2 linked regions of the Homo sapiens genome follow. The protein of the gene in region 2 purifies or fractionates together with the protein of the main gene of each other region. This does not show direct contact. Each region holds a gene or a part of one and is shown on either strand. Other genes may lie near its edges. The genes, in order: RNF10 and GON4L.

What was found.
Region 1: the proteins of GON4L (region 2) and RNF10 purify together in Homo sapiens (co-immunoprecipitation; one large-scale study listed by IntAct). This does not show direct contact.

Annotation. Positions count from the first base shown.
Region 1 is NC_000012.12:120,554,574-120,558,600, forward strand, and holds part of RNF10 (E3 ubiquitin-protein ligase RNF10), read left to right. Parts: intron 1-144; coding exon 145-235; intron 236-2,708; coding exon 2,709-2,893; intron 2,894-2,972; coding exon 2,973-3,109; intron 3,110-4,027. UniProt on the Homo sapiens protein: E3 ubiquitin-protein ligase that catalyzes monoubiquitination of 40S ribosomal proteins RPS2/us5 and RPS3/us3 in response to ribosome stalling.
Region 2 is NC_000001.11:155,759,715-155,763,214, forward strand, and holds part of GON4L (GON-4-like protein), read right to left. Parts: intron 2,661-3,500; coding exon 2,476-2,660; intron 928-2,475; coding exon 730-927; intron 1-729. UniProt on the Homo sapiens protein: Has transcriptional repressor activity, probably as part of a complex with YY1, SIN3A and HDAC1. Required for B cell lymphopoiesis.

The sequences.
Region 1 (4,027 bases), on a different chromosome or scaffold from region 2:
GGCTGAGGTCCTAGTGCAGTGCCTCATGAACCAGGGCTGCTAATGGCCTGCATTTGATTTCTAAGTGAATAGATGACAATTTCTGCTGAGGGTTTATTGGTAGATCCTGACAGTCTAGCTTTTTCCTGTCTTTCCTATTTCTAGCTGCCAATTTGTGGTGTCTGAAGACCAAGACTACACAGCTCATTTTGCTGATCCTGATACATTAGTTAACTGGGACTTTGTGGAACAAGTGGTGAGTAGCTCAGCCAAGCCCATAAGCTATGAATGGGAGCACTAAATAAAGGCACTGTGGTGACGCAGCAGCTGTTGGCTGTGTGCACTGCTTGATACCCTTTTCTGCCTGGCCTTTCTATAGATGTTTCCCAGAGGTCAGTTCCTGGTTCTTCCTGGAGTCCATTTTGTGACTAATTGGCTCTGGCCTGTAGGGATGGTGTATGAAAGGCTCTGATCTGAAGATGTGTAAGCTGGGAAGTAGTAACCCCTTACCCTCCTGATCTGGGTTGGGCTCATTACAGGGCCATTGCTTCATTGGCAGCCATTCGTAGCAATCACTATCAAAGTAGGCCTCAGCCTTGTGGCAGGGAGGCACATGAATGAGCCACACAGTTGTACTTTTCTTTTTTGAGAAAGAGTCTCACTCTGTTGCCCAGGCTGGAGTACAGTGGTGTGATCTTGGCTCACTGCAACCTCTGCCTCCAGGGTTCAAGCAATTCTCATGCCTCAGCCTCCTGAGTAGCTGGGATTACAGGCACCCGCCACCACGCCTGGCTAATTTTTGTATTTTTAGTAGAGACGGGGTTTCACCTTGTTGGCCAGGCTGTTTTTGAACTCCTGACTGCAAGTGATCCACCCACCTTGGCCTCCCAAAGTGTTGGGGTTACAGGCGTGAGCCACTCTATCTGGCCCAGTTGTACTTTTTTTTTTTTTTGAGACGGAGTTTCGCTCTTGTTGCCCAGGCTGGAGTACAGTGGTGCAATCTTGGCTCACTGCAACCTCTGCCTGCCAGGTTCAAGCGATTCTCCTGCCTCAGCCTCCCGAGTAACTGGGACTACAGGCACGCACCACCACTCCCAGCTAATTTTTTTTTGTATTTTTTTTTAGTAGAGATGGGGTTTCTCCATGTTGGTCAGGCTGGTCTTGAATTCCTGACCTCAGGTGATCCTCCCGACTTGGCCTCCCAAAGTGGTGGGATTACAGGCATGAGCCATCGTACCTGGCCTCTTTTTTTTTTTGAGACAGTCTTGCTCTGTCGCCCCAGCTGGAGTGCAGTGGCGCGATGTTGGCTCACTGTAACCTCCACCTCTTGGGTTCAAGCAATTCTCATGCCTCAGCCTCCTGAGTAGCTGGGATTACAGGCGTGCACCACTATGCCTGGCTAATTTTTGTATTTTCATTAGAGACGGGGTTCCACCGTGTTGTCCAGGCTTGTCTCAAACTCCCAGCTTCAAGTGATCAACCTGTCTCGGCCTCCCAAAGTGTTGGGATTACAGGCGTGAGCCACCACGCCCAGCTTCAGTTGCACTTTCAAAGCCACTGATGTGTTTTCTACTGAAGTTATAAACTCTAGGTATCCCCTTGTTGGTCCTAGTAGGGTATCTGTTGAAGAATAATAATTTCAAAATGATGGGCACTTTTTCTTTATGAGCAGGGGCTTTTGACCTTAAAGCTTGAACTCTCGCCGGGCGCGGTGGCTCACGCCTATAATCCCAGCACTTTGGGAGGCTGAGGCGGGCGGATCACGGGGTCAGGAGATCGAGACCATCCTGGCTAACACGGTGAAACCCCGTCTCTACTAAAAAAAAAAATTAGCCCGGCGCAGTGGCGGGTACCTGTAGTCACAGCTACTTGGGAGGCTGAGGCAGGAGAATGGCGTGAACCCGGGAGATGGAGCTTGCAGTGAGCCGAGATGGCGCCACTGCACTCCAGCCTGGGTGACAGAGTGAGACTCCGTCTCAAAAAAAAAAAAAAAAAAAAAAAAAAAGCTTGAACTCTCACTACTGTGAAAATGTATAAAATCATCTGAGAATGACATAGCATAAAAACTTAAGTTTTATTAAAAAAAAATGAAGTCTTTTTAATGCGTTCTTTGTTGGAAGTTACTGGTAGATTACTTCTAGACCCTTTTTAGGCCTTTATGCATACATATTAAGTTTTTTTATAAATGGGAATATAGTGATTTGTCACTTTTTTCTATTTAATGTAGAACCCCCAACATACCTGTTGTGTATTAGTTTTATTATATTTAACGGTTATTATGGTTTCCTTGATGCTTTGCTTAAAGAGCTATCATACAAAGCCAGGCGCGGTGGCTCACGCCGGTAATTCCAGGACTTTGGGAGGCCGAGGCGGGCGGATCACAAGGTCAGGAGATCAAGACCATCCTGGCTAACACAGTGAAACCCCGTCTCTACTAAAAAATTAGCTGAGCGTGGTGGCAGGCGCCTGTAGTCCCAGCTACTCCAGAGGCTGAGGCAGGAGAATGGCGTGAACCAAGGAGATGGACCGTCTCAAAAAAAAAAAAAAAAGAAAAAAATGATCATACATGTACCTACGTTGTAAACAATTTTAGAAAGATATGTTGAGTATAAGGATGTACGGGGATAGAGATGAGAGAGATGCGGATGAGAGAGTAGAGAGGCCTAAAACTTTGACAGTCCCTAATCAGTTCTTCAAGCAGTGAACCTTCTGGTGGCATTTTGTTTCAGCGCATTTGTAGCCATGAAGTGCCATCTTGCCCAATATGCCTCTATCCACCTACTGCAGCCAAGATAACCCGTTGTGGACACATCTTCTGCTGGGCATGCATCCTGCACTATCTTTCACTGAGTGAGAAGACGTGGAGTAAATGTCCCATCTGTTACAGTTCTGTGCATAAGAAGGATCTCAAGAGGTGAGATTGAGACATTTACTCAGTTAGATCCCAATCTCTTCACTCCTTGCCCTGCTACATATGAGTGTCCATGTTTCAGTGTTGTTGCCACAGAGTCACATCAGTATGTTGTTGGTGATACCATTACGATGCAGCTGATGAAGAGGGAGAAAGGGGTGTTGGTGGCTTTGCCCAAATCCAAATGGATGAATGTAGACCATCCCATTCATCTAGGAGGTGAGTTCTTTAAATTTTGGGGACAAATAATCCTGGGTACATTCTTTAAGGTGATTGAATATATCTAAGCATCAGAAAGTGAAGCCTTTGGGCAGGGCACATCTGGCATGTTCATATTAGTCATAGGATTCCAGTAGGTTAGGGTGGGGTTTGTAGAGAGTAGATTAATTATTGGTTTCAAGTTTGTTTAATCTATACATCCTAATTTTTCATTTTACAAGGTTTTATTACATAGTGTCTTTCACTGTGCCCAATCTTAGAGGTTCTGTGGTCAGCCAGTCTTGGTGCCTGTCGTCAAGAAACTCAGTAGTCCGATAGAAGAGACAGACTGGTAGACTGGCCATTAGGATAAAGAGTGTGATAAGTGCTCACAATGAATGCCAGAGATGTATTCCCTGTGTTTCATGCAGAAATGAGCATTTGATTAAAATAGCATTTCAGTCTCTGGGGAAAAGATAGATTTCTCAATAAATGGTATTGAAACAATTGATTCTCCCTAAGGAAAAAATAAAATTAGATTCCTATTTCATACCATTCATGAAATTAATTCCAGATAGATTGAAGAAGTAAATGTAAAAAATCCAAAAGTTTTAACCTTTTTATTTAAAAGAAAATATAGGACAATTTCTTTATAAATCCTCAGATGTGCATCTGTCTGAAGGATTGTGTGTTCTCATTTGGGTGGTAAATGTGTGTGTGTAATATTTTTTTCCTAGTGATTTTGACTGTTTAAATGTTTAGCAACTTAAAACATTAAAAATGTGTATTAATTAAAAAAAAATCCTCAGATATGGGTGGATTTTTGAACCAGGCTGAAATGATAGATGCTGTAAAAGACTGATAAATTTTATTTTTATTTTATTTATAGATATATAATATAATATGTATATATATATTTTTTTTTGAGACAGAGTCTGG
Region 2 (3,500 bases):
CGTTCCTCCCTTTGTTCCTATTTTTATGACGATAAGTCCAGGACTACTGGGATATCCCTCATGTTTAGCCTCCTATTCTGCAACATTTCACGTTACCATACCACAGTGGCCTTCCCAGACCGCTGTGTATAAAACCACCCCTCTAGTTTCCTTTCCTGCTTTATTTTTCTGTAAAACATGATCACTATAAAACATTGTATACTATATATTTTGCTGTTTATATTTATTTTTATAATTTATATTTTATATATTATATATATATATATATGATATATATATATATATGTTTTCTGGAGTATCATCTGAATTTCCTCATGATAACGTAAGCTCCACGAGGGCAGGAATTTTAGTCTTTTGTAATTACTATATTCCTAGCAATTGAGGTCAGGAATTGCTAGGAATTCCTGACAGTTAGGAGGCACCTAACAAATATTTGTTAAATGAATGTCTGGCTTGATACCAGTGAGAAGCAGAGAGCATATGACTCACCTAAGGTGTCCTTTGGCAACTATAGGTAAAACCCTCTCATTTATCATGTAAAGAAAATGGGAGAATGGGATTGGAAAGATAATACCCTGAAAAGACAGAGGCTTTTATCACTCTGGGCTAGGGGATGGCTGTGTGTCTGGAAGGAGCTGGGAGACTGAAAGAGTCTTATTCAACCCCATTCAATCCCAGTCTCACTCTGACCCAGGAGTCCCAGTGTACTTTTTTTCCCCATTCACTTACTAATCCACAGGCCAGAGCTTGCTCAGGTAACAGGAAAGCAGCAAAGTCTTTCAACAGCTGAGGCCAGTCTTGGAGCAGAATTTGCAGGCTTTTGTAGAGATCTACAGCCGTCCGTCTCTGGGTACTTGACTCAAATTCATAGATGACTTGAAGGAAGTCTTCATACTTGCCAGGGATATGTTGTAGGGCTTCTCGCACCTACACGGGAAGACTTTCAATCATCAACACCCTTTATTTGGGCCACAACAAGCAATAAGGGTACAAGGGAGAAGGCAGGGTTATGGTTAGAGAGCTCCAAGAATTATCCATCAGAGGCTGTGCCTCCAACAGATCTTAACATCTGACTGTTAATGGAAGACACAGAGCAATAGGCAAGGTAAAGATCTTTTTCTGGGAGTGAGCAAGTGAAAAATCATCTTCCACGTTCCACAGTTCTACCCACAAAACCAAGCAATGCTTTTCTCTAGGTCACAGCCCTAACCTTTCCTTACTGATTACAGCCCCATAATGAAATAGGTAACATGTGTTTGTACATGTATTTCAGCATGGGCGTAATTTGAGAGTAAATAATACATAAGTTAGGAATGTCAGTAAAACATTAGGAGATAAGAAAAAGCTATGACTATCATTGCCAGTATTCTGCTTTCCAGGGGGATAAAGGAATCAGGTGGTTACCAAGAGAAGGACACAGTTCTCCAGGACACTACCAAGAAGTGGTTAGCTTATGTGTGGTTTTTTTTTTTTTTTTTTTTTTTGAGACAGGGTCTCATTCTGTTGCCCAGGATGGAGTGCACTGATGCAATCATGGCTCACTGCAGTCTCAACCACCTGGGCCCAAGTGATCCTCCCACCTCAGACTCCCAAAGTACCTAGGACCACAGGCATGCACCACCATGCTTAGCTCACTATTTTTTTTTTATTTTTGTAGAGATGGAGGTCTCCTGTGTTGCCCAGGCTTGTCTTGTCTTGAACTCCTGGACTCAAGGATCCTCCTACCCCAGCCTCCCAAAGTGCTGGCATTATATGCAAGGGCCACAGCGCCCAGCCTGGTTCATTTTTTTTTTTTTTTTGAGACAGAGTGTCGCCCTGTCACCAAGGCTGGAGTGCAGTGGTGCGATCTCGGCTCACTGCAAACTCCGTCTCCCAGGTTCAAGTGATTCTTGTGCCTCAGCCTCCCCCGTAGCTAGGATTACAGGCGCCCACCACCACACCCGGCTAATTTTTGTATTTTAGTAGAGACAGGGTTTCACCATGTTGGTCAGGCTGGTCTCTAACTCCTGACCTCAGGTGATCCACCCACCTCGGCCTCCCAAAGTGCTGGGATTATAGGTGTCAGCCACCACGCCCAGCTGGTTCATGTCTTAAGAGCAATGTATTTTCCTGAAATCCACTTGCTGGCCAGTGTACCCACTATCTTTCTTCTCAAGCCAAAGGTTCTATAAAGGTCCTTATCAGCGCACCCAGTAAAGTCACAACCTCCCACTGATGATGGTGGTATCATCTTTCTGCCAATCTCTGGTCAACAGAAGGATGATGGCAGGGTACTAACAATAAACATACTTATGATTGAATTCTATGTCTCCTTGTGGTTCTGTCACAGAGATCTTTTGCCAGAAAAGCCAAGATAGAGGAATATGAAGCCTGTTGCATAGCCTGAAAAACAGACTTTATGTTGAAAAACATCTCCCTTGAAGAAGCAGCCACATTCATAGAGACTGGCAATAACAGGAAGCAGCATTTGCCTACCCTGGTCAGATAAGCTTGGGCAAAGGCCAAGTCCTTCTGCTCCCTGAGTGGATCTCGCTCGAGAATGTCCTCATCATACAGCAACAGCAGCTTGGAGGTGTCCTTGCTGGCCCGAGCCCGACTTCCCCGCTTGTTGCGAGCTCGATGATTGTTCCGGCCTTTTCCAGCAGCTTTGATGCTCTCTCCTTGTAGCACACATGAAAAGGATTGTTTCCCTGTCCCTGCAACCTGTGTTCTTCCCATTCCACCACATGCACCACCCCAGCCAAATCCTATTCAATATTATGGAGCAATTCAAGGAAAAGGTTTTTGGGAAAATGGTATGAGAACTAAGTCCGTCAAGTCAGTTCTACGCAGAGTCTGCAGTGTAACTGCCTTAATTGGGATGACAACAAGATAATCAGCTACTTCATATTGAGAAAGGAAGTCTAAAGAGCAAGTGTGGCTTCTGTAGTGCTTTTGAGAGACTATGTCTTGATGAGGAACAAGCAGTGTTTTCTGAAATAAACATGGGTCTTAGCCCCACACATGACAGATAAGGTAACAATCAGTTTAACAAAGTGAACTGCCAGGCACAGTGGCTCACGCCTGTAATCCCAGCACTCTGGGAGGCCGAGGCGGGTGGATCATAAGGTTAGGAGTTCGATACCAGCCTGACCAACATGGTAAAACCCCATCTCTACTAAAAATACAAAAATTAGCTGGGTGTGGGGGCAGATGCCTGTAATCCCAGCTACTCAGGAGGGTGAGGCAGGAGAATCGCTTGAACCTGGGAGGCAGAGGTTGCAGTGAGCCAAGATCGCACCACTGCACTCCAGCCTGGGCGACAGAGCAAGACTCCGTCTCAAAAAAAAAATAAAAAAATAAAAAAAAGAAAGAAAGTGAACGAAGCTAATATAAATCTAGCAACGGATGAGAATTGAATTAAAAATTTCTGAGTATCTGTTCTCCACAAAGATACCACATTAAACATGTTTTGGGGGAGGGGTGTTGCAGAAGAGATCCAGAGGGTTTCCTCTGGAAAT